5 separate regions of the Homo sapiens genome follow, and regions 2, 3, 4 and 5 are each linked to region 1. The links come from fine-mapping of genetic effects on gene expression. A gene starts in region 1. Each other region holds a variant in brackets. All regions are shown on one strand. Distances are from middle to middle.

Region 1 (6,201 bases):
AAGAGATATAAAATGCATAATCCACCTGATTCACCATCTCGGGAAGAACGAACAATCGGCGCCTACTAAAAATTCCCCCAATCCCTGTGTAAGGTACTAGGGCAAACTCCTCAGTGTTGCTTATAAACATATCAGGCTTATTTTGTCGATTGTGTAATAACTGGTTGACCAAAACCTTATGAAACTCTGTGTAACTGGTAAAACTGCTCCCCCAATCACCCCCAAAAGTGAAAGACGCAAATCAAGAATAAAAAAGAAAGCAAACTTAAAACATTCCATTCTGATGCAATAACAAGGTACCATCACCCCTGTACAAGCAGGATTCCCTGCCCCATTACACAGTTAAGTTTGCAATTAGAGTACAGTATTGAAATGTTGCCAAACTACCTCAATTCTGTTTAAGTCACAAACATTAAAAAGCGTGGTTTTTTTTAATAGAAAAAACGATGCAAACCTTTAAAATATTGCACAGGTTTCTTTTCTTGACTAGATACTTCAAAAGTAATATAAAAATATTATTTGGCTATTTCAGTGTCTTTTCTTGTTTACAGTTCAATGAGAAATTAAACACAACGTTCTAAGCAAAACCTTGTATCCACTGAAACAAAACAATTTCACATTCAATATTTGATCTAAATGTTGATTTTCATCAGCAGATCCTGTAATTGGTTAATATGATAATGAAATGTTCCTATTCATATCCCTATCTAAAACAGATCTTTAATTACCTAGGGGAAAATCACTCCCTTGGTAGAGTGCTGCTAAGGAGCCCGTGGGTGGGGAGGCTGCTGTATCCCTAGCACAGTCATCAGCAAAACATTTATCATGTCCTTCTCAGTGGGCCAATGCTACATTCCCCCCTACTCTGTAAAAAGCTCAGTCATCCCTTATCTTCTTAGTGCCTCCAGAGCAGAAAATTGACAAACTGAAATAACCAAATACTTTTCAAACGGTGATCTCTTTTCTAGGCTATAAACCAGCTTGTAACAAGTCGCCTCAAGCCTTTTCCAGCTATCTTCTCTCCTAGTATAACTTAAGCCTACATTTTTTAACACTGAAAAGGAAATTTCGAAAGATAAGAAAACCAACTAGATGGAATGGCGCATATATTAGCTGTGGCACCTTAACAGGTAAATAAGACAGTCATTTTCTGCTACTACTTCATTTCAAATGCGTTTCATCTCGGACCTTGGTGTGGATGCGGACGGGGTTTCCCGGATAGACATGATTTAAAAATAAAAATTAACGCTCTCATCATGTGAGTCACATCTCTGACAAACGCCACTGCCCTCTCACAGCAAGACCCTGGCAGACCCCACGGAGTAGGCGCTGGGTAGCAAATATACGACACGCCAAAGAGCTACTAAATGAAGTGTCTTGAAATAAACTGAACTAAACCCTTTCGTGCACTGCGCTCCCGCGGCGGTTAGTGGTTTCTGATTTTAGCTCTTCCAGCTGTTTGCATGTGGGTATGTTTCCAATTTTTTTTTCCTTGGGACAGGCTAAAAGTCCCGGGAAGTTTTTTCTGGGCTATATGACTCCCTGCGTGGGCGAAAGAAACAGGCGGTTGCTCTAATTCGGCTGCTGGGCAAGTGTAAAAGCCAACTGCCAGCTTTCAACGCGGCTCCGGGAGGAAATTTACGTGCACACGAAGAAAACAACACCCCCGGTCTTTTTTTTTTTTTTTTTTTTTTAAGGAAAAATAAGCGCTCCGACACAACCTTAGCTTTCCTAACTCTCATTTTCCAAACGCGGCCCGCAATCGCTTCTAAAGCAGGTTGAGCCACCGGGTATGAAACCTTGGGGAACCTCTCCCCAGCACCCCAATTTGCGTTTCTACTTAACCCGAGACGATGGGGATGGGGGGGAGGGCTCCAATGCCTTGGCATTGGAGAGCGGTACAGGCGAAGGCGTAATTTAAGTAAAACTGAGCGTAAGGTACAAGGTTTCGTCCCTCAAGTGTAAGAAAAACAACTAAGGTGCGCGTGAGCACCCAGTTCCCTCCCTCTTACCTCTCCCAGGCCGACCCGCCGGGGCAGATTCCCCTCCATCCTTCCCACCCCCGGCCCCCCCCCCCATTTACTCTCAGCGAAACGCGGGGCCCCGGCCAGGCGTGCAGGGCGGGGCTGCCCACCCAGCACCGGCTCCGGTGCGCCCCGACGCACGCCCCAGCCTGGAGCGGCCCCTGTCGCCCGCGAGTCGCAGCAACGGGACACGCCCGAGCCCGGGAGTGCTGCGGTGGGAGGGGAGCGGCTCTTCCTACCTGGACCAGGTCCTCTGGAGGCAGCCGCGGGCCGGTGGCGGGCGGCTGGGCCGGCTGCGGGGCCTGCGCGGGCGCGGGCTGCGCCTGCGGGCGGTGGTGCGCGTGCTTCAGCTCCTCGCCGGGGAAGAGCGCCGCGTCGCGGGCCGGATTCGCGGCGCCCAGCACCGGCTTGAGCTGCGCGAACACCGGCTCGTCCTGCGGCGCCGGCGGCTGGGGCACGGGTCCCAGGCGGGCGCTCATGCTCAGCACCCTTGTAGCCATGGGCACTCGGGGGCGCAGCTCCAGGCGCGGGTCGGGCGCACTTCCCACCTCGCCCACGCTGGCTTGGGTCGGCGAGCTCAGCGCGGGGCTGCCGGCGGAGGAGGGGAGGTTTCGGGTGGACTCCTCAGACAGCGGCAGGCAGTTTTCGAAGGCGCGCACGAAAAGCAAAACTCTTCCGCTCTTCCACACGTAAACGCCAACGTCCTCCGGGCGGCCACTTTCTCCCGCCCCGCCCCACCGTGCTCTCAGGCTCTCCGGAGCCCGCTCCCGCCACCGCCGACCTCCGCGAGAGAACCGCGAGCGCACGTACCTGCCCCGCGACTACTGACACTTGACGCCCGCCTCTATTTCACCCAACTCCGGGGGGGCGGGGCCCGATCGCCTGATTGGCAGCGCCGCCGCGAATCCCGAGGCCCCGAGGCCGGCCAGGCCTGAGCGGCCAGCCTATGAGCAGGGAGAGAGGCAGCCAGGGCCCCGCCTCCGTCGGCCCGACCGCACCCCTCTCGGGCCACGAGCTTCGCGCGCAGGGCGGCCGCGCAGTTTGTACACAACTTCTCTGACAGATTGGGCTGGCGGAGCCGGGGGCGGAGGGAAGTAGCGGAGCGGGTGGAATCTGGGAAGAGGGGGAATTAGGGTGGAGACGCGGAGGGAGATCTCTTCGCACTGTTCTCTGCCAGGATTAGGAAGAAAAAGAGTATTGCACGTCTTAGGTGTTGTGCAAGGACCTGAAACTCAAAAGCTGAAACCCAGAAGGCAGCTAGGTAGGGGCGCTGAGGCTTTTAGAGATTTGTCTAATGAGTGTGTACTTTTAAATATCCAAAATGTACTTCTCTTTAGCAGAAAACTAGGGGCGGTGTGATAAACAAATTTAAAACAGCTCTTGTCCCTGTGTATCTTTAGCAGTGAGTGTATCCGTTTAACAAGGCAAATTCAGAATGCCTGAATAAAAGATTTGATGGCAAGCGTTTTTTCAGATCCTTGCATAAAAGCCTGGGTTTTTCCCACTCCTTCAGGATTTTAATTGCTAGACGTTTTCCCACACATTTCTACTTCCCATCCGTGTGTGGGGAGGAGGGCTTGGGCCATATGAATTTTGAAGTTTCTAATATTTAAGCCGTGTTGATTCTAGCCGAAGCATGGAATCTAATTTAAGCACGACTAGCTCAAACGTGTATTTAAATAGACATTACATCTTTGACTTATTTTTGCTAGCACTGTATGTTCAAAAAATGGACTTTAATATTTACAAAGCAGAAACCTAGCACATTTACCTCACATTGTGGCACCTTTTCCTACGAAGAGACAATCAAAAAGCCGCAAACATAGACACAGAGCAGCTCTGAAAACTGGGAATCCAAATTTGTTGGAAAGTAATAGCCAAATATATTACCATCCATTTACTATGTTGTTATAATGGGAGGGTGAATTTTTGCCAGCAATCACCTAAGGAAACCACTTCCCTTAATCCTTAATGTTCTTGTACATGATTTTATCTGGCTTATTGGGAGGACGGAACAATAAACTGCAATAAAAATGCCTGTGATATTACTACAAATGTACATATGTTGACACACAATATACCATTAGACAGTTTTACATATACCACAGCCTATTCATCACTTCAGAGTAAAACAGCTTTAAAAAAAAGTCTTGGATAAAAACGTTCACTTCAAAGAGTGTATCTATCAAAGGTATGGATCTCATTTTCAATGGGTAGAAAATTAATATGCACATAAAGAAATGTATTTATTATTAGAAAATATAAAATTATGCTGTAAACTGGGTTTTTCTCCTTTTCCTTCTCTTCCTGTTGACACATGATTCATTTTTATAGCTGTGATCACTGCCTTCAGAGAATGGCTGATGACTACTTTCATGTTATCAAAGTATTATTTAATAAGTGCTTTTGCAAGTTTTTCTCTAACCAAGCAGCCCCATGCTGTCCATCTTCATCTTTAAAAAGCTGTCCTGCTTTTCTCTAATGTAAAACCTATCATGTAATTAATTAGCTTAGAAACAGATTATAGAATTAGGATGGGATTTAATGTAACTCTTTTAAAAAATTGAGCTTTGAAAGATTTTTAGTTACTTAATTCTGATAACATCAAACCTAAATGTGATGTAGATAATTCTTAATAGAACTTTTGTGCTCTTGTAACTTTAAGCTAAATCTAACTTAGATTTAATACATTCGGTAGCTGTATCTTAATGTGCTTTTAAACCTATCTAGACCTTTCCTTTTGTCTTTTTACGAGAGCTTCAGTGGCCCGGTCTTTCAACCTAAGTTTTCACTGCAATAAAATCCATGTATTTTACTGGAAATGCTTCTATAATTTCACACCACTTTTTAACATGCTTTCATTTACAAAAGCTTTTTCATTGCAAAAAAAAAACCATACAACTAAGTTTTTAATATTTTTAGTCTTGTTAATTTTTCATATTTCCACTTTTCATAATATAGATATGAAGCTAGCGTTGGGGTTCTTATAGTAACTGAATATATTCCTTTTTGCTCCAATACAGTAGCAGGTTTTAAAATTCCATTTTGGGCATAAAGATTCATGAAATAGGGCTGCCACTTTTAAGTAATAGTTTCTCTGAAATGCCCTGCTCTGCAGTCTCACAGAAAATAACTAGCTTAGCACTGTACAATAGTACGGAAATTGGAAAGTAATCCTTTTCGGAGACATTTGCCATGTGATTCTGAACATATAAAGAACATGTTCGACCAAGTTTCCTTGCTGTTGCTTTTAACATAAATGCTACAGCTGCAAACCTGTTTCACCGACTTAGTAAAAAGGGTTAAAACTTGATAAATATTTTTCAAATGTTCCAGGTTCTACATTGGCTTGAAGCCAGACAGTGTGAATGGACAGATCCTCAATTACTTTGAACTTTCTAGTTCTTTGCATTCCTTCCCGCTTAGTAGTGCTGTACCATTAGGGAAGATAGGAGAAAACAAAAAACAAATGTCAGGTTTCAGAAATCAATTAGTGGCCTGGCAGTGGTGTGTTAACTGAACTGTGCCAAAACAGGGGATTCTGAGGGAATGAAATAAAAATGTTGAGTAGTCAAGTTAGGTAGGAGGGTAAGCATAGAAGCAGTGTGCATGCTTAAGTCCTTAGTCACTGGGCAACACAGATTTAGTCTTAGAATAAACCATAAGTGTCACTATCTTTACGGGAATAAATACGGATGAATATGCGGGGGCTGAACAGGCATTCAATGTTGGGGGAGGGGGTTTGAAGGAGGCAGTGGAAAAAAATAGATAAATAGCTTCTGAATGATGAGATGAGGGAAATATGAAGCTATCACTAGGGCAATGTTCACACAACGACACGGCAAAAGGAATATCTAAATTCAGTTGTTTGGCAAATCTAAATTCAGTTGTTTGGCAAAAACGTCACAGCTTGAAATTAAGAGGTATAGAGTATCACAGCCAACAAAACTGTATTCACTTTGAGTAGAAAAATATTCATAGAATATTTATTTCTGCCAAATCAGTATCAAATTGCCAAGTGATCTTGGGCCACAGAAAAAAGAACAAGAATAAAAATGAAAAATAAAGCTTTATACGGGAGCACACTCTTCTCTAGGGTAAGATTATTTAATTAAAGTGACTTTTTGGTAGTCATTGATTGCACACCCCTGTTAGAATCTGTATCAGTGAAAACTTA
Region 2 (6,201 bases), 61 kb after region 1:
GTAGGCTGGGTAATAAGCTTAGGAAGTCTTGCCAAAAAGGGGTATCACCCAACAAGAATTAGCTATGCCAATTAGATTGTTAGTCTTGGAAAATACAGGGAGAACTACATTATAAGAGAGTAGATGCAGAAAGGATGTACAGAAACCTGTTTCAAGACAAAGGGCTGTGAGCAAGTTAATGAGGAAGTGGAAAACATGAGTAAGCAGAAACTAGAGGAGAAACAAAGAGAAGCTGATGTACTACAGAGGAAAAGATGCATGGACTCAGCCGCCTTGTGTCCAGGCTAGTCAACTGAGCCATCCTGTTTTCTCCCGCCTGTCAGCTTAGTCTACATTACTGCCACACGTATCCTTAAAATAATTGTCCCTTATTTTATTTTATTTTATTTTTTGAGGCAGAGTTTCACTCTCTCGCCAAGGTGGTGAATGCAGTGGTGCCATCGCACCGACAATTCTCCTGCCTGTCTCCCAAGTAGCTGGGACTACAGGCGTGTGCCACCACACCCGGGTAATTTTTGTATTTTTAGTAGGGATAGGGTTTCACCATGTTGGCCAGCCTGGTCTTGAACTCCTGACCTCAGGTGATCCTCCCACTTTGGCCTCCCAAAGTGCTGGGATTAGAGGTGTGAGCCACCATGTCTGCCCAATTGTCTCTTATTTGATCTAAACTGCAACTTTCATTTTTTTAAAAAGGGAGGTTGAATTATATAATCACTAAAAAATCTCTTTCATCCTATTAATCTTCAGTAGCATTATCTGCATGTATAATAAAATGACTGAGATCAGAAGTTCTCATATTTGACTATTATATTCAACTTGGGAGTTAAAAAAATTAAGATTCTGGGGACTCACTGAATCAGAATATCAGAGAAAATCTTTCTGGTTTTGAGTCTCTATGTTTAGCAGATAAAAATCATGTTTCTCCTGAGAAATGAAAGCATGATTGAGAAACCATTTGAAGTAAAATGGAATATTTAATAATGTTACTCCTATTTTAATTCTCTTGCCTTTTAATCTTGATTCTTATTATTTGTTAAAATATATAGTTTTCAATATTTCCTAATTTATTTTCTCTATTTTTAAAAATTGGCACATAATAACTGTACATATTTTTGGTATTTTACCTTTTAATCCAAATTTTTCTTATTTCTTTTTCTTTAATTTCTGTGCACATATATTTTTAGCTAACAATGCATTTCAGTTTATGTTAATTGATTTCACACTTTATGAGGAATTACAGTAAAATATACTATCATCTATAAGATAGGTAATATACACATTTAGAAAATGGATTAATGCAAATCCTTCAAGGTCTTTTCATGAAACATATTTGTGGAATCTACTCATTTCATAAATGTAAAAGGAAAAAATTAACTAAAATACATTTAGTAAGAATCAGGAATATTAAAATTATGAGTTTTAAAAATTGTACTTACAAAGAGTGTTGGTTTAGGTGTAAATATATTGTCTTCATGCTCTTTAGGCACATTCAAAGTCTTTGATTTCTGATTTTCTGTCACATGTTTTGGTTCTGTTTTAGTGAGAAGTAAGCTGTTCTCAGAATGTTTACTATGCATCTTAACGAGAATCTGTTTCATTGCTGCCAATTCCTGTTGATATATGAAAACAGAAGAAAGTAGCAAGAGTGATTTTAGCAAGCAGACTAATAATGATTAATATTAAAATATTTTTAAGTAGAAGAAACAATTATACTACACACATAAGTTGTGAAAATAAAATAGTAATTAGAATCATGCACATGAATCTTTTGATCATTAATACTCATTTAATATAACTGACAATTACAACATTCTATAGTCTAGTGGTTTCCACGTTTTTCTGCACACTGAAATCACCTGTGGAGCTTCAAATATTGCCAGTGATGACTGTGTCCCAACCCCAGAGACTGTGAGATAATTGATGTGGTGTGGCCTGGGCTTTGGAATTTTTTTTTTTTTTTAGATAGGATCTCACTGTCACCCAGGCTGGAGTGCAGTGGTGTGGTCTCGGCTCACTGCAGCCTCTACCTCCTGGGCTCAAGCCATCCTCCTGCCTCAGTGCCTGAGTAGCTGGGACTACAGGCGCATGCCACCACGCCCAGCTAATTTTTTTGTATTTTGGAATTTTTGAAGATCTCAAGTGATTCTAATAGACAGACAAATTTGGGAACCACTGGCATAGCTACCTTCCACTGTAGATGCTCCACATATATTCGCTGAGTAGACTATTTAAGCATTTAACTTTTTCTCTTCTTCTTTTAAACTGTCGCATTTCCTTTGAATTCTTATATAAAGATGGTAGAGAAAAAGAATCCAATCTTGGCTACTAGTCAGCAGTTAAACAGTAAGTTTAATACAGATTCAGGATTTCTTTAGCTGTATTATCCCTTATCCTTTTACAAATGATAAGTGGGGTTGGCTTCAGTTGCCCTTTGAACTAAGAATTAATTGTGATGAACTTTTTGAAGAGATCAAAAATTTCACCCGTTC[T/C]TGCTCCCAAGTGTATTTGTCTTTCATATCCATAGACAAATCTTTAGTACATAACACTAGTGGGTATTTATGATTAATTACTAAATTGATACATCATATACAAGTATATGGAGAGATGACAGGCTAAACTCTTCTTAATCTTTATTTATCAGAACAGAACAGTGGTAGGCTATGTAACAGGTAATTTTTTCCTATTATCTTATTGTATCTTCATGCCAAAACACGAAAGTTATGGTGATAGAACAATGTTCTGCTCTCTTCTACTAATCTGTTTATAGACACCAGCTCTGTGTCACAGCAAGTTCCTACAGGCCTTTCTCTTCTGGCTGTCATTAGTTCTATTTAGAACCATCTAACTTGAGTGAGTATTTTAAAGCAGTGTTGCTGAGTTTAAGCCATATAACCTTAATAGATTTTAGGGTTGCGAGACGTGTCAGAAGAAATGGTGTCAGAATCCTTTCTCCTTTCTGCAGTAGTGGGCCTGGCTTGGCCAATGTACATGAGAATGCATATACTTGCAGACATTGCCAATCTGATATATGATTATCTGGGCCATTTGGGGACTCTTTTTGCTTTCAAGATTATGTTGTTTCATTTATATGCTCCACTATGGTGAAGTATATAATTATTGATTTGATGTCAAATGGGTATGGTGTTATGGTAGATTTCAGCTCCTGTTCTACTTACCAAGATAAGTAGAAGGGAAAGCCTATGAAAAGAAAAACTTTCTATCTGAAAGAACATCTCTTTATTAGCCACAACTTTTCTATCTTTGGCATGAAGATAAAATAAGAGCAAAAATCCCCTCCAAAACAATCTAGCACTATTCTACAGATAAATAAGGTAAAGGGGGGTTTAGTGGTCAGGAGATTAGAAGGGAAATTCACATCTTTGCTTTATCCTAAGATCACCCCAGTTTGGGGTGTTGTCACAGTACCACTTTCGTTAATGTGACTGTACAAAAAATATTAGCAGTTTCTGAAATCCAGGCAAAGAACACTTTAAGATCAGCAAAATTCTGTAAAATTCTTATTAGGATAATACAGCTACAGTGGGTACCCAAATAACATTTAGAACACATTTTCAATTTTATTATGTTTGGCTTATATAATGATCCAACTTATATCGATGGTAAATTTGAACCAAGAAAATTCCACTTCAATTTTTTTTTTTTTAGAGACAGGGTCTTGCTCTGTTGTCCATGCTAGAGTGCTATGGTGTGATCACAGTTCATTCAAACCATCCTACCGCCTCAGCCTCCTGAGTAGCTAGGACTACAGGGGCATTCCCCCACACCCAGCTAATTTTTAAATTTTTGGTAGAGATGAGGTCTTACTATGTTGCTCAGGCTGGTCTCTCACTCCTGGCCTTAAGTGATTCTCCAGCCTTGGCCTCCCAAAGTGCTGGGATTATAGGCATGAGCCACTGCACCTGGCTAAGCACATGTAGTGGTACTATTTTAGTATAAAGCTATTAGCAAACGACACATCTATTCTTGACATTATTATTGTTTAAACTTAGGCTGCCTAATCTAGTTCAATGAGCTTTAGTTTTATAATTGATAAAATGTAAGCTTCTGTTACCTTTTAGGATTTTTGCCAGTCTGATAAGGGTTTGTGTATGTTTATTTTGCATTCCTTTTACAGTGAAGTTGAGCAGTTTTTTTTTTTTTTTAATATATTGAAGGTTTTTTTTCAGTTGATTGCCTTGGCCCATTTTTCTACTGAGTGGTCATTTTCTTATACATTTCAAGGAGCTCTTTATATGTTAGGGAAATTAGCCCTTTGTCTTTAATATGAGTGGCAATTTTTCCAGTTTACCTCTTACTTGACTTTGTTTATGACCCCCCCCCCCCGCTTTTTTTTTTTTGTTATGAAGAACATTTGATTGTGATGTAGCAGAATATGTCAATCTTTTCTTCTGTGGTCTTCTCCATGTTTTTTTCCTATATTTTCTTAAGTTACTTTTGTGGTTTTTCTTTTCTTTTTTTTTTTGAGATGGAGTCTCGCTCTGTCATCCAGGCTGGAGTGCAGTGGCAAGATCTCGGCTCACTGCAATCTCCGCCTCCCAGGTTCAAGCAATTCTCTGCCTCAGCCTCCAGAGTAGCTAGGATTACAAGCACCCACAACCACGCTCAGCTAATTTTTGTATTTTTAATAGAGACGGGGTTTCACCATCTTGGCCAGGCTGGTCTTGAAGTCCTGACCTCGTGATCCACTCGCCTCGGCCTCCCAAAGTGCTGGGATTACAGGCGTGAGTCACTGTGCCCAGCCTCTTTTCTTTTTCAAACATATAGATCTTTGATTGGTTTAAAGTTTATCCTGGCTTATGGTAAAACATATGAATACAACATCTGTCCCCTCAAGATGGCTCTCCTATAACAACATCATGTACTGAAGAGACCATTTTTTCCCCCACTGATGCCATCTTTATAATGTACTAAACTGCTGTAAGTATATTATTTATTTATGGACTTTAAAACTCTGTTTCTACAGTCTGTCTATTTATGCACCCATGTCGCACTGTTTTAATGTTTTACTCTTTAATGAATGATGTATTTTTCTGGCTGTATTCTTGGAGATAGGCGTGGGATCATGCTGAAGGGAAAACAAAATTAGAAAGAACTTTTTTTTTTTTTTTTTGAGACGGAGTCTCATTCTGTCGCCCAGGTTGGAGTGCAGTGGTGTGATCTCGGCTCACTGCAACCTCTGCCTCCCAGGTTCAAGCAATTCTCTGCTTCAGTCTCCCAAGTAGCTGGGATTACAGGTGCCCACTACCATGCCCGGCTAATTTTTTGTTATTTTTAGTAGAGACGGGGTTTCACCATCTTGGCCAGGCTGGTCTTGAACTCCTGACCTCATGATTCACCCACCTCAGCCTCCCAAAATGCTGGGATTACAGGTGTGAGCCACCGCACCTGTCCGCAAGAACCTCTTTATTATATTAAGTGTTCACAGCCATGAAAGTATTTGAATATGTCTTACACCGACCTTTTTGACATAAATTGTCCTATCCTAGTTGATGCTACTATTACAATGAAATGATCATGATTCATGAGATCCCAATTCACAAACTGACAAAGCAAACAGGAAACAATCCAACATAACAGGCAATAATTAGAAAACATTTTTGTCACTACGAAGAGAAATCCTTTGGTAAGATGAAATCATTTTGAAGCCCTCTGCTTTGCTTCTAACCTGGTTCGGTTCTTATCCTGTGTCTGGCTTCTGGGTATTGGCTTCATCTCGTATTTCAGATTCCGCTCTCATTGTTTGCATTTGAGTTTGGCATCTCATCTCCCTGCCTTTTGATTCTACTTTCCTCTTCTATAACTATCATTTTTCTGATTGGTCAGTGGGTTTATTTGCAGCATTGCCTCATTATTTGTAAATATTGTTTATTGCAGAGAATGTGACTACAGAAAAGGAAACTGTGATGCTCAAAGAAGAATGTTTTAAGTACTAAGTTTGACTGGATTCTTTTTCTTATACTGTATCTACTGCTCAAAAATCATGCCATTGATTTAGGTTCCTATTTGTACTTCAACTTTCCAACAAATATTTTTTTCCCCTCTTTTCAGAGTTTCTGCCCTTTTGTTTTCTCATTGATAGAAACAATGTACGCCTTTTTCCTTATTACCTAATATTATCTAGCTTCTTAATCGTGTTGTTTGCTGAGATTAATTCTGTACTGACTGCTTTTAAGACTGAAA
Region 3 (6,201 bases), 440 kb before region 1:
TCTTTCCCAAATAATAAGTATTTAAGGGTAATGTTGGTAATTTACTCTCAAGTAGTTCTGGAAGAAACAGTGCTCTATACCATACTTGCACAATTTCTAAAAGGCTGGGATTGTTCAAAAATAAAATAAAAATTCCTTAAAACTATTTTTAAATAAAAGAAGAAGTATAAAAAATGTATGACAACATCAATAAAAAGCTAAAGGCCACGTGTGGTGGTGCATGCCTATAGTTCCAACTACTCCGGAGGCTAAGGTGGGAGGATCACTTGAGCCCAGGCATTCAAGGTTAGAGCACGACCCTGTCTGTAAAAATAAAAATAGAAAGTTGGATACAAGGCAAGAATTTGAGTGGAGGCATTGTTAAAGGAATATGAAATTTTTATTATAATTTTTGTAGTTTTGTTTTTTAGGATCAGGAGAATGTTGATATGTTTGATGTGATAGGCAGACGAGAAGATCAAGTTAGAAAGAGAAATACAACTGGAACGCGTTCTAAGAAATGCTTCAATCCAGCATGCTAAATTTCATGGGATGTGGAAAGAAAGCAACTTGAAAAAGGTCAATTTTGCGTTCAGGTAGATTGCAAATACCTTAAAACCAAGAACATACCCTTTTACTTCAGAGTGGCTCTAGAATGTAGTAGCAGGTGGATTATAGGTCCGTCTTTATGGGAATACAGATAACAGTTGCTAGGATTTTTCAGCACCACTGTTCCCAATATTCCTGGATCTCAGGTCCTGTAGGAGACTGATTTGGCTTGCCTCCTGGATACAAACACACCGAGGCAGGTTTCGTGAGTGAGGTTATTGTTGTTACGTAAAAGCAATGGCATGATGTTTATGCTCACCCATGTGTCATTACCACTCGTTAGACCTGTGTTCCTATGAACAATTTCCACAGTAATCAGGGGCCTGTTACTACTTGTTATCTAAATAGGGCTCAGGAAGATGCTGTGGCTGTGGGATACAGTAGCCCAGAATATGTAAGAAGTGGTTGACACTGGCTACCAAGTCAGTTAGCCATTATGGGAAATGGAATGAGCAGCGATGCAGTGTGTTTAGGAAAAAATTATTCATTTTAGTCCATTATAACCTCCAAAACTACTGCGATTGAGTAAATAACGTCACTGCTGTCTCTGGCATACAACCATCAGTTGTAGAAGCTAAAGCTAGGAATAATATTATACTGTAATTATGGGTCTTTAATCATCCCAGAAAAAATTGGAGATGAAGATGGACATTAGACAAGGACAATCTCAAGATATTTCTTAAGAAAAAGACAACGTGTAGTGAAGATCGTGGGTTTTAGATTCAGACAGTCAGCCTGTTTAGTCTTAACTTTGTGGCCTTCATCGAGCTAGGGAACCTCATTTTCTTCTCTATACAATGGGGCTAACGGTACATTACAAGGTTTTTATAAAAATTAAAGATAATATATGTGGAATAACTATTATTATTTCTGCTTATTAATAGTGCCCCGTAGTTATTACTGCTTTTTGTATTTACCATATACAAACTACATTCTAATCCAGTGAGTCAATAACCAAATACTTACAAATATTTCACAATCATCAAAAATAAGCAAACACACAATTGAAGAAAGCATAAACACAGGCTTTAAAAGCCTTTACAGTGGTGGTATCTTTCTATAAATCTGCCATTTTTTAAGCTGTTTATTCCTTAACCTTTTGAAAAAAAAGTAAAACAAATTACGTCTTAGGAAGCCTACAATTCAATGAAAGATGGCCAGATAATAGAGTTGCATATAGCATCTATTATCTCCTCCTTCCTTAAGATATCAGAGCCTTTAAAAGGGATCCATTTAAACAGAAAATCTCAAGAGCAGTTTGTATTCAATGATGACAATATCCACACATGGTATTTTAAAATCTCTTTCCAAACAAGGGGATCCTACGCCCTAGCTTGCCTGGGACACTTCCAGTTTATTTCTGTTATTCTGGCTTACTTATTGATAGTCCTTTCCATCCCTTCACTTTCAAAGATCTCCTGGTTTGGATAATAAATACATTCATCCTACATATAGCATTTTACACTTAATTTTTCCTAGAGCAAAGATTATTTTAAATCTAGTAATTCCTAAGAAATTATAATCACAAATTACAAATTATAATTATAATCACAATTTTAATATGTCTTTGACTTGGAACCCAGGTTATATGCAATGCAGCAGAAGATACTGAATATTTTATCTGCAATCTGAATAAATTACACAGATTGGCATCTAAACTATGAAATGTTTTCACAGAAAATTTTCTAGTGGCATTTTATTAATGGATCATAATATAGCAAAAGAGAGAAAGGAAGAAAGATTTGCAAGACCGAAAGATGACCAAAGCAAATGGAAACCTGTGCTGGGCCACTGGTGGGCAGGGTCACTGGTGGGCAGTATCTGCTGGGCAGTCACTGCTGGGCGGGGTCACTGGCAGGCAGTCAGTGATGGGCAGGGTCACTGGTGGGCAGTCATGGATGGCCAGGGCAGGATGGATAACTCTGACATCAAGTGTGCTTATGCTGTGCCCTCGATGGTTTGGAAGCTCCTTCCAAATCTGATAAGGAAGATAAAAGGATCTTATTTTGATTGACTAGAAAATGATTTTTTTTTTTTTTT[G/TTG]AGATGGACTCTCACTCTGTTGCCCAGGCTGGACTGCAATGGTGCAATCTCGGCTCACTGCAACCTCCGCCTCCCGGGTTCAAATGATTTTCCTACCTCAGCCTTCTGAGTAGCTGGGATTACAGGCACCTGCCACTGCACCTGGCTAATTTTTGTATTTTTAGTAGAGACGGGGTTTCACCATGTTTGCCAGGCTGGTCTCGAACTCCTGACCTCAGGTGATCCGCCTGCCTCGGCCTCGCAAAGTGCTGAGATTACAGGAGTGAGCCACCGCGCCCAGCCGAAAATGATTTTTTTAATCTAAATATTATGCAATTTTTTTCAGAATTGCTGTCAGATTTTAACACCTAGCTCATTTTGAACATTTTGAATTCTGATGTCCTGTACCCTGGAGATGAGTTCGTTGCACAGAATTAAAGAATGAGGCCATACGGAAAATACCAATGTCTATACTGTTCTTCCTGTCTGTTTTATTATGTCTCTCCTCTCCTCTATTCTCCCTTCTTTTCCTCAATTAGCTACAACATTTATAATATTTTCAAGAAAGAGAGAAACTGTGATTATGCCTTCTGTTGGTTAAAAACTGAGATTTCTGGATTAATTGAAGCTTGTGAGGAAATTCAAATCTATTACTTTTTGTAACCCTAGTAAGTTATGAAAATAATACTTAAGATAATTTAAACATCATTAGTTTATGAAGTATAAATGTACTGATTTTTGTTATGATGACACTATACCACTTTAAATAGAACTGTAAGCATTGTGCTTCTCAATATTATTTATTTACTCGGCCTTACTTCTATTGAACTTATTACTCACAGGAAAAACAAAATGGATATCTTGGCATGGAATAAAGACTGATAGAATAGATGGCTTTCAATGCCAAATGCCAGAGCAAAGATTATTTTAAATATGATAATCCCTAAGAAATTATAGTCACAAATTACAAATTATAATTATAATCACAGTTACAAATCCATAATTGTGAATCACAGATTTTTTTGTCTTGCATAGACTTACCATCAGTAAATTTCCATGAGTAAAAATTTCTGTAAATTCTATATTTAAAAAATATTCAGCCTGAAGCCTTCTAGTAATCTGAAGACCCTTCTATTACTAATCTATTCACATGCACAAGGAGGCTTGTGCCTATTTGTGCATTTACTTTAAAAAACTAGTTTAGAAGAATTTCTGAGCATGGCACCCAAAGGCAGAAATCATTATGAAAAACATTTTAGATTTAACTACATGAGAATGAAATTTTCTGTAGAGCAAAACCCACTATACTATACACAAAATTAGAAACAGAATATGTAAAATACTTGATAGACAAAAGATTACTACAATTAATACATGAGTTCTCACAAATCAATTTTTAAAATCGTCTCCCATAGAAAAAATGGCAAAGACTTGAAAAGAGAATTTACATCATAACACAGTCAAATAGAAAATAAGATATTCTATCTCACTGACAAATAAATTCAAATTAACATGTAATAATGGGATACAGCACTTTCACCCAGTAGACTAAGAAAGGGTTTTTAGAGTGATCATGCCTACAACTGATGAAGATGATGGCAACAAGTCACTTTTGTGCATTTGTTGGTGACAGTCTAAGTCAGTAAAAATTTCCTATAAAGAAATACAGTAACATGTATTAAAAGCCTTAGTGGTGTACAAATCATTTGACATGGAAATTCCCCTTCTAAGAATTACTTCTTAGCAATGGATTGGAAAAGAGCACAGGATATGATAAAGATTTTCACCACAGGGATTGACTACTTGGTGAAAATTGGGAAGAGTCCAACTGTCAATCAATACTGAGTTAATTAAATACAAATGGTACATTTATATATGGAATGTTCTTCATTTGGTAAGAATGCAAATTTATTTTTATTGACATACAAAAAGGCCAATATATATGTAACTGAAAAAGCTAGTCACAGAAAGAATATTTATAGTAGGATCCCATTTTTTAAAAGAATACAAACCAAAATTATGTCAACATTATTTTTCAGTGGTGAGATTACAAAAATTTTTACTTTCTCCTTTATATTTGTCTAATTTTCTAAATTATTATAATCAGGATGAAAACAATAAAGGAATTTTCCTGCTCCCCTTCATTTTCCCATTATAAAGGAGAAGATGTCATGGTAAGTAATGTCTGGCCATTTTCGGTAGGTGGATGTGAAATTTAATCCACAGTTCAAAAACCAGCCTTATTTACATTCTAATGAAAATCTAAATGGAAAATGTGCTCTGTACTTGAAACTTCAAGACATTGACAAAGTCAGTGGGAAATCCCTACATCCAGTGGCTGTGTGGACCTCTGCAGACAGAAAGATCACTTGGAATGAAGGTTCACATATGTCATGGCATAAAGAGGCTTTGCAGAATGGCAGTCTAGTTGAGGGGGAGATTTCTTAGTATCATGATGTTGCTATTCAGAAGGTGGGCAGCTCTTAGTTTGCTTTTCAGCCCTCTTTCATCTCACTCACCAGCACAAAGTGAGCCAGTTCTTGGGAACCCAGAGAAAGCATAGTTGGAGGAAACTGGGAGAGGAGGAAATGGTGACAACCACAAGAAAACCTTCCAGGCCACAGCTTGCAGAACAATGCCACTATGCCCATAAATTTAGTGCTAATTTTATCTGTGGAAAATCACAAAAATGAGCCTGACTGCCTTACCTCCTGCTCCACATACAAATATTTAAGTCAAAATTTAACCCAGGGAGAAAAACAAAATGAGCCAAATAAATACATGTAGCTAGCTAAGTCCTTCACAAAGGGGCCTTCAGTGTTTCTACCCAGCATAAGAACATAACTCCTGGCTCTTCGACTGAAATGATTCATGAAAAAAAAAAAGCTAAATATGTTTTCTTAAGAAGAAATTCAATGTGTCAGAAAAATATGATTGTCCTAATCCAGTTTAACTTTTAACCTCAATAAATAAGCAAGAGAAGTTTGCAACCTGAGCCTTTCTTCCCAGTGAATGTTTCTTTTCCTTCTTGCTCCTGAAGAGTTTTTCCTTTTTATCCTGGGGACACAGGAATACAATAATTCATCAAAATTTCATCCCTGCAGGAATCTGGACACCCCCAAAAAATGAGCTAGTAAAGGAAATCATGAAACCTACCTTCACAAATATTTTTTTCTAAAGGTAGGCACCCAACTGGGTACAGCCCAGAGGGAGAGCAAAGGATGAACTCGGGGCCCTCTATAAGACTTTCTCTCCCTGGATGAAGAGAGTGGACGAGGGCCAGGACACAGTGCTCCCCCGTTATCATTCAATTACACAAGCCTGGACAAGTCACTTTGCTGCTCCAGGACCCTGCAAGAAATGTTTAGACTAAAGGATATCATCTGTGTCTTACAGTGCTAAGATTCAATTATTTGTAATACACAACTAAACAGAGGTGGGGGAGAGAAAGGGTACAAACCAACATGTACAGAGTGATCCTATTTCTGTGAAACAAAGCAGAAACACAGTAATAAAATGAAAACATATGTATCAGGCAAGGACTGGAATGAAACTCAACAAAAATCATATTTTGATTGCAGTTTTTTCTGTTCT
Region 4 (6,201 bases), 240 kb before region 1:
CCAGTTAACTTAGATAAGGTTAACCCAAGTATGGGCTGATGAATGAAATGTAAGGTTTGCATGGGCATTTGGAATCAAAAGATCTAAAAGGATGTTGCTAACACCAGATGTACTAGCAGGCACAGTTCTAACCATAGGATTCTTGTTGGGAAACTGTAGAGCAGTTCCCATCACATTTAGCCCATATCAGAGACTAAACACCTTCCCCTTCTGATAACGTGTGTATGAGATGCCTCCTTTCTGAGGTCTGAGTCTCTGTTTGAGTCATCTTTGCGTCTCTTTTCTCTTTTCTTCCAATAATCTTCCTCCCTGGTGTCTAGTACAAAGTTTTGCCTGCAATAAGCACTAAATAAATATCTACCAAGAGCATTAAAATGTAAAAATCAGAATTTTCTGGAATACCCACAATCAAATGTGCTTATCAGAAAAAGAAATCACACAGATGTTTTTGTAACAAGCAGAACCCAAATTAGTCTTTCACGATTTCTGCTGATCATATTAGAATCACCATTTCTGCTGATCCTATTAGAATCACCTCTACTTAAAAAAAAAAAAAAGCCTCAAAATATCACTGGCTTTTTTCCACATAAGCAATATTTAAACAAGAAACAAGCTTGGAAGGGGAATAAGAGGCTTTAGCAGTAGATGAATCTTTATCACAAACTATTTCCTCCACGTGAATCGTCCTGCTGGCATTCCCTGGGAATTAACGTTTGCTGCTGCTTGTTACCTGAAGTGTTGCATGAATAAGAAGTATGCATGATAGAGCTTCATGTATTCACTCAGCCCACAGGAAACGTGAGCATGCAGCATCCTCTGATTCAGCAGAGAAGTGCCAGGTCACCCACCTACTACAGAGGGACACAGTCGCTGACTCAGAAAACTCATGCTCATCACAGGAAAAAGAAGCAAGTAAGCACCAAATAAGCAAGGCCTAAATTAATCACTCTCCGTTCAATATATCTGGGTATATTTGAGTCACAACTTTCTGACAAGCCTATGAGATTTTTTAGAAAAAAGATGCAGGTAACTACGAATGCTGGCAAAGCAAAGCGTGTGAACGTCAGAGTAGTTGAAAGCATTTCTGCTTTAGCAAGTTATTTCTTTCCGTATCATCTGGTCAACCTCTGAAACCAGAGTGATATTCTCTCTTCATGTCCCTTTAATCTTTTTGTGGAGTGGTTAAAAAAAAGAAGAAGGAGGAGGAGCTAGGCATGGTGGCTCACGCCTGTAATCCTAACATTTTGGGAGACCAAGGCAGGAGGATCGCTTGAGCCCAGAAGTTTGAGATGAGCCTGGGCAACATAGCAAGACCCTATCTCTTAAAAAAAAATTAGCCAAGTATGGTGGTGCACACCTGTAGTCTCAGATACTTGGGAGGCTGAGGTGGGGGAACAGCTTGAGCCCAGGAGGCTAAGACTGCAGTGAGCTGTGATTGTGCCACTGCACTCCAGCCTGGGTGACAGAGCAAGGCTCTATGTCAAAAATAAAAATAAAAAATAAAAGGAGAAGGAGGAAGAGGAGAATTGTAGTTGTGGTAATTGGAATAGGAAGAAGGAGGAGAATGAGAACAAGGAGGAGAAATTAATATACCTTCCTTTTGCCAAAATAAAGGAGTTTTTGTGAAGCTCTTTGTATTATTATTGCATATTGATATTCCATATATAGACATACACTCATGCCCATTTTTAACATTTTTGTTGCATTAAAATATGGCTCCAAGTGTAGTCTGTCTGTAGATGAACTACAGAAGCTATCTAAATGCTGAAAGAACACCATCACCATGGATGCTGTTCAGTGTGGTGGTTAAGAAGTCTCACTTCAGAATTAGATACTCCTAGGTGACTTCTAACAGAACCATCACCACTTACTAGATACACGAATTTAGCCTTAAAATGCTCAGTTTCCTCATTTGTTCATCAGAACTAATAACGTCTATCTTATTGAATGTATTAAAGGTCAGAAGAGATAATGTCTGTAAAAAGATTGGCAAGGATTTAAGTAACCAATAAATGATAGCCATTATTATCACTATGAAAACTGTATGAGTGTTGACTATGACTTCAGATAAGCAAGATTAGCAAAATTCTGTACACTTAGAAACAGATTATTCTATCTTTCTTTTCTTCCACCTTTCTAGCCTGTCAAAGCCAAGCTCTGGAAAACTGAATGGCCTGCAAGAGCTGTTTAGTGTGTATAATTGCTTTCATTATTGTAATTATTTACAGTACTGGTAGCTTCACACTTGCATTACTAATAAACCTTTCAAAGTGTACTGGCATTTGGGTTGGTTATGAAGGTTCAAAACCTTACAAGTTTCCATAGTGATCCCAAAATATTCAGAAACCGTAAACTACTTTGAAAAATAAAAAACATCATAGAGAAGTACACATTAGTATCCTGAAAAAAAGAACATTCTTTGCCACAACAGTAACATCAATTCAGAAATGTTTCCTTAGACCTGGAAGCAACTTAATGTAATTTGAAGCCAGGGGATAACTGGTGTTTAGAGAGTTCCAGAATAGGATGTGGTCAAGACCCCCTTCCCTGCCCGTATGGAGATCTTACAATAATATTTAACTGAGCCCTTGCTATACATCTACCCCTAATCTAAGTGCTTTACATTTATTTGATCCTCTTAGCCACTCCATGAAATAAGTACTATCTTTATGTTCATTTTATGGATGAGAAAACTGAGGCACAGAAAGATTGATTTGTTTGCCCAAGGTTACACAGCTAGTAAGTGGATCAGTCAGTATTCAAGCCTGGTAGTGTTAAACACTATGTTCCTGGGATGTTTTATCATCTATAACCACTGGTGAAAGTTGTAAATGTTAAGGACAACTTGGAATTGCCATACTATATTGTTAAAAACCTACAGTTACTGTGAATCACTAGGCAAAAATATACTAATGTTGGGAAGAAAACCTTTTCCTCTACCACTTGGGTCCAGTGCTTGGGGGCCTGCAAATTAACTGGAAATAGATTAACAGGAGAAAAGACAAGGTTTATTTACATGTGCATGTGGGAGTTGCTCAGCAATGAGTAACTCACAGAATAATGCAGAGTAAAGATTTTTGTATATCAACTTAAGGATGGTTTTGGCCAGGCCCAGTGGCTCATGCCTGTAATCTCAGCACTTTGGGAGGCCAAGGTGGGTGGATCACCTGAGGTCAGGAGTTTGAGACCAGCCTGTCCAACATGGTGAAACCCTGTCTCTACTAAAAATACAAAAACATTAGCTGGGCATGGTGGCGGGCTCTGTCATCCCAGCGACTCAGGAGGCTGAGGCAGGAGAATCACTTGAACCAAGGAGGCAGAAGTTGCAGTCAGCCGAGATCACGCCATTGCACTCCAGCCTGGGTGACAAGAGTGAAACTCCATCTCAAAAAAAA[A/T]AAAATAATAATAATAAAATAATCTTTATACCAACTGTGAGAGTCTGAGTGAATTCCCCCACTAATAGAGTCATTTGTTAGGTGGGGAACAAGGATAGCGCAGATACATTGCATTTAAACTAAATTCAAATTAGCTTCAAATAATCTGCACCAGTAATTAGTTCCTAGTTACTGTGCTTGAAAGTCATTTTTAGATCAAACATTCTCTGTCTACAAGCAATAGCATAGTAGTGTACTTCTCATTAAAGGTAGTGCTTGGCCCATAGAAGATGTTAAATAAATATTTATCGAATGAGCAAAAGAATCATTGTAAATATTCAACTGTCTTATGCTGATATAAATACATGGCAGGTTTATATATATTGGTTGCTATCACTTATTTGAAATATTAATTTGTTTTATTTGTAAATAAACATCATAACTATTATAGTGAGAATTACAACTTGAAGTTTATTAAGTAACTATGTTCTTACATATTGGATCAGAGATTAGTATTAGCCAACCATTTTCAAACACCCATAGTTAAAATCTCACTGGCATGGTTAATGATAAGCTACAACAAGACCGGCAGTGTATGCTGGGCCTTGGACAAACTTCAGAGTAGATGAACTCCACTGTATTAGTCAGGGATCTTCAGAGAAACAGGACTGAGATAGGTAGGTAGGTAGGTAGATAGATATATAAATAGAGAAACAGATACAGAACTGAGATAGAGAGGTAGGTAGGTAGGTAAATAGCTAGATGACAGATAGATAGATAGATAGATAGATAGATAGATAGATAGATAGAGATTTATTACAAGGTATTGACTCATATAATTAAGGAAGCTGAGAAGTCCCACAATCCTCCCCAATTAAGGAAGGAAGAGGAAAGCCAGTGGTGTGGTTTGAAGGCCTGAGAGCCAGAGAGCTGATAGTGTCAATTCCAGTCTGAGTCTGAAGGCCTGAAAACCAGGAACACTGATGGCAGGAAAAATCAATGTCCCTGTTCAAGCAGTGAGACAAAGGGAGACAACCTTCCTTTGCCTTTTGTTCTCTTCAGGCCTTTAATGAATTGGATGATGCCCATCTACCTTGGGAAGGGCCATCAGCCTTATTCAATCCACAAATTCAAATGCTAATTTCTTCCAGAAACACCATCAGAGAAATAGTTTCATCAGACATCTGGGTACCACATAGCCTGGGCAAGTTGATACGTAAAATTAACCACTGTATCCACCAAACCATGCTCATTCACACCTCAGTGTCCTTAGGCCCTCTCCTCAATTTTTTTTCTCCTCCCTACCCTGACATTATTTATTCAACGAACAGCAAGAGTGGAAACTAGTACCACCCCTAGAAGCATATATTTTAGCAGACTTCAAAACTTAACCTAGAAGAAGGGAGCTCCTTCAAAAGTATTTTATTCATTCTTACTCCAACTCGACAAATATTTGTTAAGCAGTTACCATGGCACAGATATCACTCCAGATGCTAGGAATACAGCCAGCCCTCTGTATCTGTGGGTTCTGCATTTGTGGATTCAACCAACCACAGACCAAAAATATTTATTTTAATTGGATGGTTGTGTCTGTACTGAACATATACTGAACATACTTAGACTTTTTTTCTTGTCATTATTCCCTAAACAATACAATATAACCACTATTTATGTAGCATTTACATTGTATTTGGTGTTATAAGTAATCTAGAGGTGATTTAAAGCATATGGGAGGATGTGCACAGGTTATATACAAATACGACACCATTTTATATCAGGGACTTGAGCCTTCACAGATTTTGGTATCCAACAGTGTCTTAGAACCAATTCCCCTTGGATACCTACAAATGACTGCACATTGCAGAGCATAAAACTGACACACACACAAATCCCTGCCCTTACGGAGTTTACATTCTAGTGTGCATTTCAGCCAATTGTCAGTCATCTGAAAAATACTTTACAGTACAAAGAAACATCAAAATGTCCAGAAATAACTGAAAACTATGAATCTACAGAGCATCTTTGGGAGAATGTAAATCTAGACTTTGAAAGCCAACCAAATGGGGTTCAAATCCTACCTTACCACCTACTGGGTTTGAGACTGTCTTAGGCAAACTGCTGATTTTTCTCTTCAGTAAAAACAGTACCACTCCTTTAGCATGCAATTATTGAAATAATTGAAAGAATAATGTGTATATATATTCTGAGGGCATAATTTCAGCCTCCTAAGGTTGAATTGCAGTCTGTGTAATACCATTCTGTGAATAAAAATAATCACTAAAGATTGTAGTATGATTTACTACTTATATGGTATGCTTATATTTATTATAATTTTTGTTGGAATGTCTGATCCAGTATTTTGAAATCTCCTTTAGCCTCAGAAAATGAAAGATTTTTTTAATTCACCGGATTCATTTGCAAAAATCAACTGAGCACTTAACAAGTACACTAGGCACTAGATACACAAGGATTTAAATAAAACAGAAATAGAACCAGTTCTCCTGAGCTTACTCTGTAATTGGTGACAAAAACGATAAATAAGTAAACATTTAAATAAACTTATAATTGCAAATTGTAATTTTATCATCAAGTTCAAAAACAGCCCTCCTCACTGGCCCTTGTCCTCCCTTTTGGTCTCCTTTGAAGCTTTTCTCTAACAATATCTCCTCTGTTATTTCATGAACCTGTCTGTTTCTACTTAATCCTTTCTCTCAGTATAAAAGCAGACTGAAGCCTCTCATCCTGAAGCAACAGCAATGGCACTGTCCCAGGATCATGTGCCCTCTGCTAATGGATAATGCCTTATTTTCTCCTTATCTTTTGCAGC
Region 5 (6,201 bases), 200 kb before region 1:
AACACATCCTATCTGATAGCAGAATGTTCATAGCCTCAGTGACTAAATGTCGCATACACTGTTTGGGGATGAGTGTGGCTACTGAATGCTGGCCAGCTGCCCCACCTGTTCCAGAACTTTCCTTTCTCACTCTTGCCAAATGTGTGTCCCATCTGCTATGTTAAAACTGAAATCAAAGATCAAAACAAGTATTAAACAGTGTATTTGGGGGCTCACTGCCTGAAAGTTAAATAACATCCCTCCTCTCCCTCTATCTTCTGTCATTCCCTGACCTCATGGGAGTGCAACAGAGTGGTCGCTGGTCACGCAGGACACCAGTGTTCTTACATTATTTGGTGTGCTTGACTTGCTTCCCTAGTCAGTGGGTAGTTGTTTCTTTTCATTTTCTGTCTTCCTTGCTGCCAAACTGTGTGGCCCTTAGTAAAAACCTGTTTTGTCAGAAGAAATCAGAAATATGACTCTGAAAAATTAAGGGACTTATCCAAGTTCACACAACTTACGATGGAGTGGGAATTTGACCTCAGCTTTTCCGCTTCTTGGCTTCCTTCCACTGTGTGATGCTTCCTGTGTGGTCATCAGCTCTCCCCAGCTATCTTGTGAGCTCCTAACTGTTCTGACATAGGTTCCTGGAGACGAGTCTCACGTTTTTTTTTATTTACCCTACCATGTCTTTTGCAGAAAACAAAATCAACAGATATGGGAAGTGTTGGGGAGAAAAGCATAGAAAGGTAAATACAAGTGCCAGCTCAAGACACAAACCTAAAACTAGCAGGTTTCCTAAGCACATGAATGTCACTTCCTATTTCTCCTGTAATAATCCAAGGGAAAACTAGAGTTTTGCTGTTTTACCAACAAACAGCACAGTTGATGGTGAGTGTCAGCACACCAGCCACCTAGCAGAGGAGAAGCCCACTGGGTCTGCCTTCCACCCAGACCCAGACCAAGACCCTCTGGATCAGATGAGGCCTCCAGGCAAGGACGGACCACAGAAATCAATAGAACACTTTCAAGACCTGTTCAAGCTTCAGACCCAGTGTCAACATTCATGAAGAGTAAGGAGGACCTGTCATCAGCCATAGTTTGTCATTTCTGAATCGAAGGCAGGGTTGGCCAACGTAGAGGAAACTGGCTGCCCTGGCATGCATTTGGTGCCCAAGGCACACATAAAATTGAGGAGGTTTTTATTTGTTTGTTTTGGGTTTTTTTTTTTTAGACGGGATCTCACTCTGTCACCCAGGCTGGAGTGCACTGGCACTATCTCGGCTCACTGCAAGCTCTGGCTCACTGCAATCCCAGCACTTGGGAGGCTGAGGCGGGTGGATCTCCTGAGGTCGGCGGTTGAAGACCAGCCTGGCCAACATGGTGAAACTCCATCTCTAAAAACACAAAAATTAGCCAGACCTGGTGGCACATGCCTGTAATCCCATCTACTCGGGAGGCTGATGCACGAGAATCGCTTGAACCCAGGAGGGGGAGGTTACAGTGAGTCAAGATCGCACCACTGCACTCCAGCCTGGGCGACAGAGAGAGACTCTGTTTCAATGTAAAAAAAAAAAAAAAGAAGAAGAAGAAAAGAAAAAATGAAAGTGTGTTATATAAAATAATAGTAATCTGGAACTAAAATTTCAAATTGTTTCAACAATATATGGAAATTGATGAGGTGTGTTAAATTTCTCATTTAGCTCAGGGAAAATTCATACTTCTTCATTCTTAATGTTGACTAAAAACTAGGTTTACATATATATTTTAAGTTGACCCTAACCATAAAAGATAGAAATGGAATGTATAACTTCAAATCACCAGAGGGGAAAAAAAGGAACAAAGTTTGATGCAACAATGTGGTAAAACTTTTTGAAATAATACATGACAAACAATTTTTGTAAAAGCTGATCTGATATTTTGGCTCTCACTTATATACATTTGTATTAAATTTGACAACATATATAGCTTTCATCATTTTTGTGGGGATTTTTTATGTAAGATAAGGCATAATATTAAAATATTTTCAAATGAAATGAGACAAGGCATTTAAAACAGTAAGACTATCAAAAGGTTTCTTCAAAGAGACTATGGCTTCCTTGTATTTAAATTCATGTAATTTGGAAGGAGAGATGAGAGGTGAGTTGACACAGAGGACTGACAACAGATGCTAGAGTTCTTCAAAGGGGGAAAAAGAGTCTTGGGAATATACCTACATGAAACACTGGGTGTAAACTGAGGTCTTAAAATTATGCCTTGATGGAAGGCAGGACTTACCTAGAGAACTGAATTCTCAGTATAAGAAATAACAAGATTTGGCCAGGTACAGTGGCTCACACCTGTAATCCCAACATTTTGGGAAGCTGAGGCAGGTGGATCATTTGAGGTCAGGAGTTGGAGACCAACCTGGTCAAACTGGTGAAACCCTGTCTCTACTAAAAAATTAGCCGGGTGTTCTGGCACGTCCACGTAATCCTAGCTACTCGGGAGGCTGCATGAGAATCGCTTGAACCCAGGAGGCGGAGGTTGCAGTGAGCTAAGATCACACCACAGCACTCTATCCTGAGTGACAGAGCGAGATTTCCTCTCAGGAAATGAAAGGAAAGGAAACTAAAGGAGAGGAGACGGGAGGGGAGGGGAGGGGAGGGGAGGGGAGGGGACCAGAGGGAAAATGTCACTAAAAGGGGTGGGGATTGAGGAATAGAGAATAAAGGAGTATTACAAACCAGGCAGCTTGCTGAAAAAAGTAGACAGTGAGAAAGAAGCTCTTAAGGACCAAAAATTTTCGAGAGCTGCAATATTATCTACTTCTTCTTCTTCTTCTTTTTTTTTTTTTGAGATGGAGTCTTGCTCTGTCACTCAGGCTGGAGTGCAGTGGCACTGTTTCGGCTCACTGCAAGCTCCGCCTTCCAGGTTCAAGTGATTCTCATGCCTCAGCCTCCTGAGTAGCTGAGACTACAGG[C/T]GCCTGCCACCACGCCAGGCTAATTTTTGTATTTTTAGTAGAGGCAGGATTTTGCCCTGTTGACCAGGCTGGTCTCAAACTCCTGACCTCAGGTGATCTGTCTGCCTCGGCCTCCCAAGGTGCTGGGACTACAGGTGTGAGCCAACGTGCCCAGCCATTTTTTACTTTATTTTAATGATGCTATAATTTAAACTTCTTTTAGTTAAACAATTCCATTGCCCCAAAACTTCAGTGAATGTCTGCCATACACACAGCCTGAGAATGTGGACAGGAAGGACTTGGATGATGTTCTGTGTGGGGTGCACAGTGCATAAAAGGAACAGCACACAGATGTGAGTAAACCATGAACTGCACTAATCCACAGAAGAAGGACCCCAGGGCCAGAAGAAGCCAGGAGAAATGGAGGTGCCCTGTCCCCTCAATGACTTGAGACATTTGGAAAGACTGAGTCTCTCACTGCACATGGGACAAGGTATTTAAGCCAAATATCAAAAGACCAGTTGGCCCTGAGTGACATTTTGGATACAGATAATGTATATTCTCTCATCAAGACAACTGGAGGTCACACTTGGAAATCCAAAACTTGAACTTTAGAGGTATTCCATAACAATAGCAAAATTGATATTAGCAAATAAAATATAATGGCTCAAAACACATAATAAATGAAAAAAAGAAATTATTTAAAAAGTGTATATGAGTTTATATAACAAAATACACTTATAAAGAATAGCAAAGAATCATATATTTCTAAATAACTATAAAGTACTAAGTCCTCAACTCAGAAAAGCAAAAGGATATTAATGCTAAAATGTTCAAGTTATGCTCAGAAATAAAAAGCCTTTCTAATTAAGAAATAAAATATCTCCTTTTTGAAATAGGCCTGAAACAGGCACTGTAAATCTAAAATATAGATGAGAACAACTTAAACATTAGATGAAAAGAAAAGAAAATCATGTACAGGTTATACCTGATAAAATAGTGGCTCATTTTTAATTTCCTGCTAAAGGAAATGAATGAGTCAAAAGAATAGAAATTTCTGGTTAATGAGAGATCAAAGCTGAATGTGATCCAACTAGCAAAAGAAGAAAAGAAAACATTGAGAAAGATCATGAACGATAGATTCTGAAATCAGAACAGGTCTTTTAGAAAGCCTTGAGCCACGATGTGATAAGGACAAAATAGAAAAGGAAGAAGGAAGAGAGAATAATCCAGGGAATCCTTCCTGATGACTCAGGTAATGATCTGTAACCATTTCAAGACTCCAAATCCTCATGAGCAACAGCCTCTCTGGAATAGCTGAAGGGAGAAGATTCTCCCACCTCCACAAACTACAAGCTCCAGAGGATCTCCCTTTCCATCAACATGGTGAATCCCTGTATAACTCCATCTAGCCTGTGAGCCCCAGGAGGCTGGAGAGGAAAGCCATTCCCTTCTCGAGTGGCAAACTATCAGCTTCAGAGTGTGGTCATCCATGTTCACCCTTGCTTCTGACACCACTGACTGACTGTTTTATATGTGTTGAGTTTGTCTGTTGAGGAAATGTGTTCAAGCCCATGATTTTTCTATACCACTGCATCAAATTCAGTATGAAACATAACATGCATCATCAACAAATACTAAGAGACAGCTTTTTAAATGTTTGGAATATTTTTCCTAATTATTTCCTCCCACTTGGGATCAGAAAACTAAACAAAGTCATTTGTTTTCTCTTGGACATGTTTAAAGACGTCCACTCATCCCTCCACCTTTCTGGGCCTTGAGTCCTCATCTATATAGTAAGGAAACTTGACTAGGGACCTCTGACGTTATCCTCCAGCTCCAGCCTTCTGGGACTGCCTCAGCCTAAGCACACAATGGCATCTTTCCCAAGACATGTTCCTCCAATTCCCTATTTCCAGTCAGAAGCAAGAGAGGAGTGGGAGAGAGGCCTGGGTAGGTAACACAGCAGAGAATTTGTACCTTGGAGAATCAGGAGTCAGCAGAGTTCTCATCTTGACCTCCCCTCCTTCTTTCTTTCTTCCTGCTTTGCTCACCTCTCTGAATTGGCATTTACACATTTGATCCTCTCTGGGTCTAGTTCCTTTTCATTTTTTGGTTAGTAGCTCCAATAGAGGCCTGCAATAAACCAAGGAAAGGCTCATTGAAAGAGAAACAGATTCCCTTAGATGTACCATGAGGGATGGCTACATTTGGGGCATTCCAACTCAACTAAATGACCCACCTGGAAAAGAAACACTTCCACATTTGACCAGACACCCTCCCAAAATGTGTGTGTGTTTTTTTTTAGATGGACTTTTGCTCTTGTTGCCCAGACTGGAGCACAATGGCATGATCTCAGCTCACTGCAACCTCCACCTCCAAGGTTCAAACTAGTCTCCTGCCTCAGCCTCCCAAGTATCTGGGATTATAGTCATGTGCCACCACACCTGGCTAGTTTTGTAGTTTTAGTAGAGATGGGGTTTCACCATGTTGATCAGGCTGGTCTTGAACTCCTGATCTCAGGTGATCCACCTGCCTCGCCCTCCTGAAGTGCTGAGATTACAGGCGTGAACCACCGCGCCCAGCCCCAAAACGTCTTAAAGACTTAAAAAGACAGTTCTGCCAGCTCACTATTTACTGATCAGTGTCCATGTGCATTTCCAGTGGTCTGTCATTAAACACACTGGATCAAAAATCCCCATCCCCTGCCACTGCCAGCTCAAGCCAGCCTACAATTATTTCCAGTAGCTGGCTGTGACTTAAAACTCTGGTTAGAAGAAAGGCGAGACGTCACTTTAATGCAATTCTTGTGTTATCTGTGGAATTCGGTTTTTCATGCATACTCCTATCTTCCATCATCAAAGCATCCCTTAAAGGCCCATTTGGTTCTTTATCAAGACCAACACTAAGATTTACCTAGAAAATTTTCAGGTTAGCTTTGAGACTCACACATTCAGAAGACCTGAGGCTTGAAAATGACAGGACTGTAGGTGATACTAGAAGTGAGACAGGTTTCAAGCCATTCAGGTCAATACCGTACAATACTGTGGTGGTGACACCCTAGTTAGTTGCCGTGAAGCCATTCCAAGAGGCCATTAATTGATCCCAATGGACACCTAATGGCCTCTTAAAATAGAAGACTGTACTTAAGTGGAGATAGGAACATGCTAATTACATAACTCTTTTATTCAAGGTAGTCTTTGGATTTGGCCTCTAATTCTGATTCCTTCCCTGCCATCTCTACTAGAAAGTTGTAAGAAGTGAATCTCCATTCCACGTTA

What was found. PIP is the estimated chance that this variant, and not a neighbour inherited with it, causes the effect.
Region 2: its variant is the best candidate, but not a certain one, in a credible set for the expression of KLF5 in whole blood (TOPMed, PIP 0.70).
Region 3: its variant is the best candidate, but not a certain one, in a credible set for the expression of KLF5 in Th1 cells (Schmiedel 2018, PIP 0.62).
Region 4: its variant is the best candidate, but not a certain one, in a credible set for the expression of KLF5 in whole blood (INTERVAL, PIP 0.89).
Region 5: its variant is the best candidate, but not a certain one, in a credible set for the expression of KLF5 in whole blood (INTERVAL, PIP 0.81).

What each region holds. Positions count from the first base shown.
Region 1 is chr13:73,055,651-73,061,851 of GRCh38, reverse strand. It overlaps KLF5 (KLF transcription factor 5), which reads right to left and starts at 2,847. Exons shown (of 4, transcript NM_001730.5): 1 at 2,264-2,847. The coding sequence starts at 2,524. RefSeq lists silencers at 2,084-2,173, 2,494-3,103.
Region 2 is chr13:72,994,231-73,000,431 of GRCh38, reverse strand. It overlaps PIBF1 (progesterone immunomodulatory binding factor 1), which reads right to left. Exons shown (of 18, transcript NM_006346.4): 17 at 1,437-1,610. Among named protein-coding and RNA genes, the nearest start is that of KLF5, 62 kb to the left of the region's middle. The variant T/C (reference allele first, on the strand shown) is at 2,490.
Region 3 is chr13:73,492,300-73,498,500 of GRCh38, reverse strand. No RefSeq gene overlaps it. Among named protein-coding and RNA genes, the nearest start is that of LINC00392, 69 kb to the left of the region's middle. The variant G/TTG (reference allele first, on the strand shown) is at 2,629.
Region 4 is chr13:73,298,670-73,304,870 of GRCh38, reverse strand. No RefSeq gene overlaps it. Among named protein-coding and RNA genes, the nearest start is that of KLF5, 240 kb to the right of the region's middle. The variant A/T (reference allele first, on the strand shown) is at 3,396.
Region 5 is chr13:73,252,953-73,259,153 of GRCh38, reverse strand. No RefSeq gene overlaps it. Among named protein-coding and RNA genes, the nearest start is that of KLF5, 200 kb to the right of the region's middle. The variant C/T (reference allele first, on the strand shown) is at 2,942.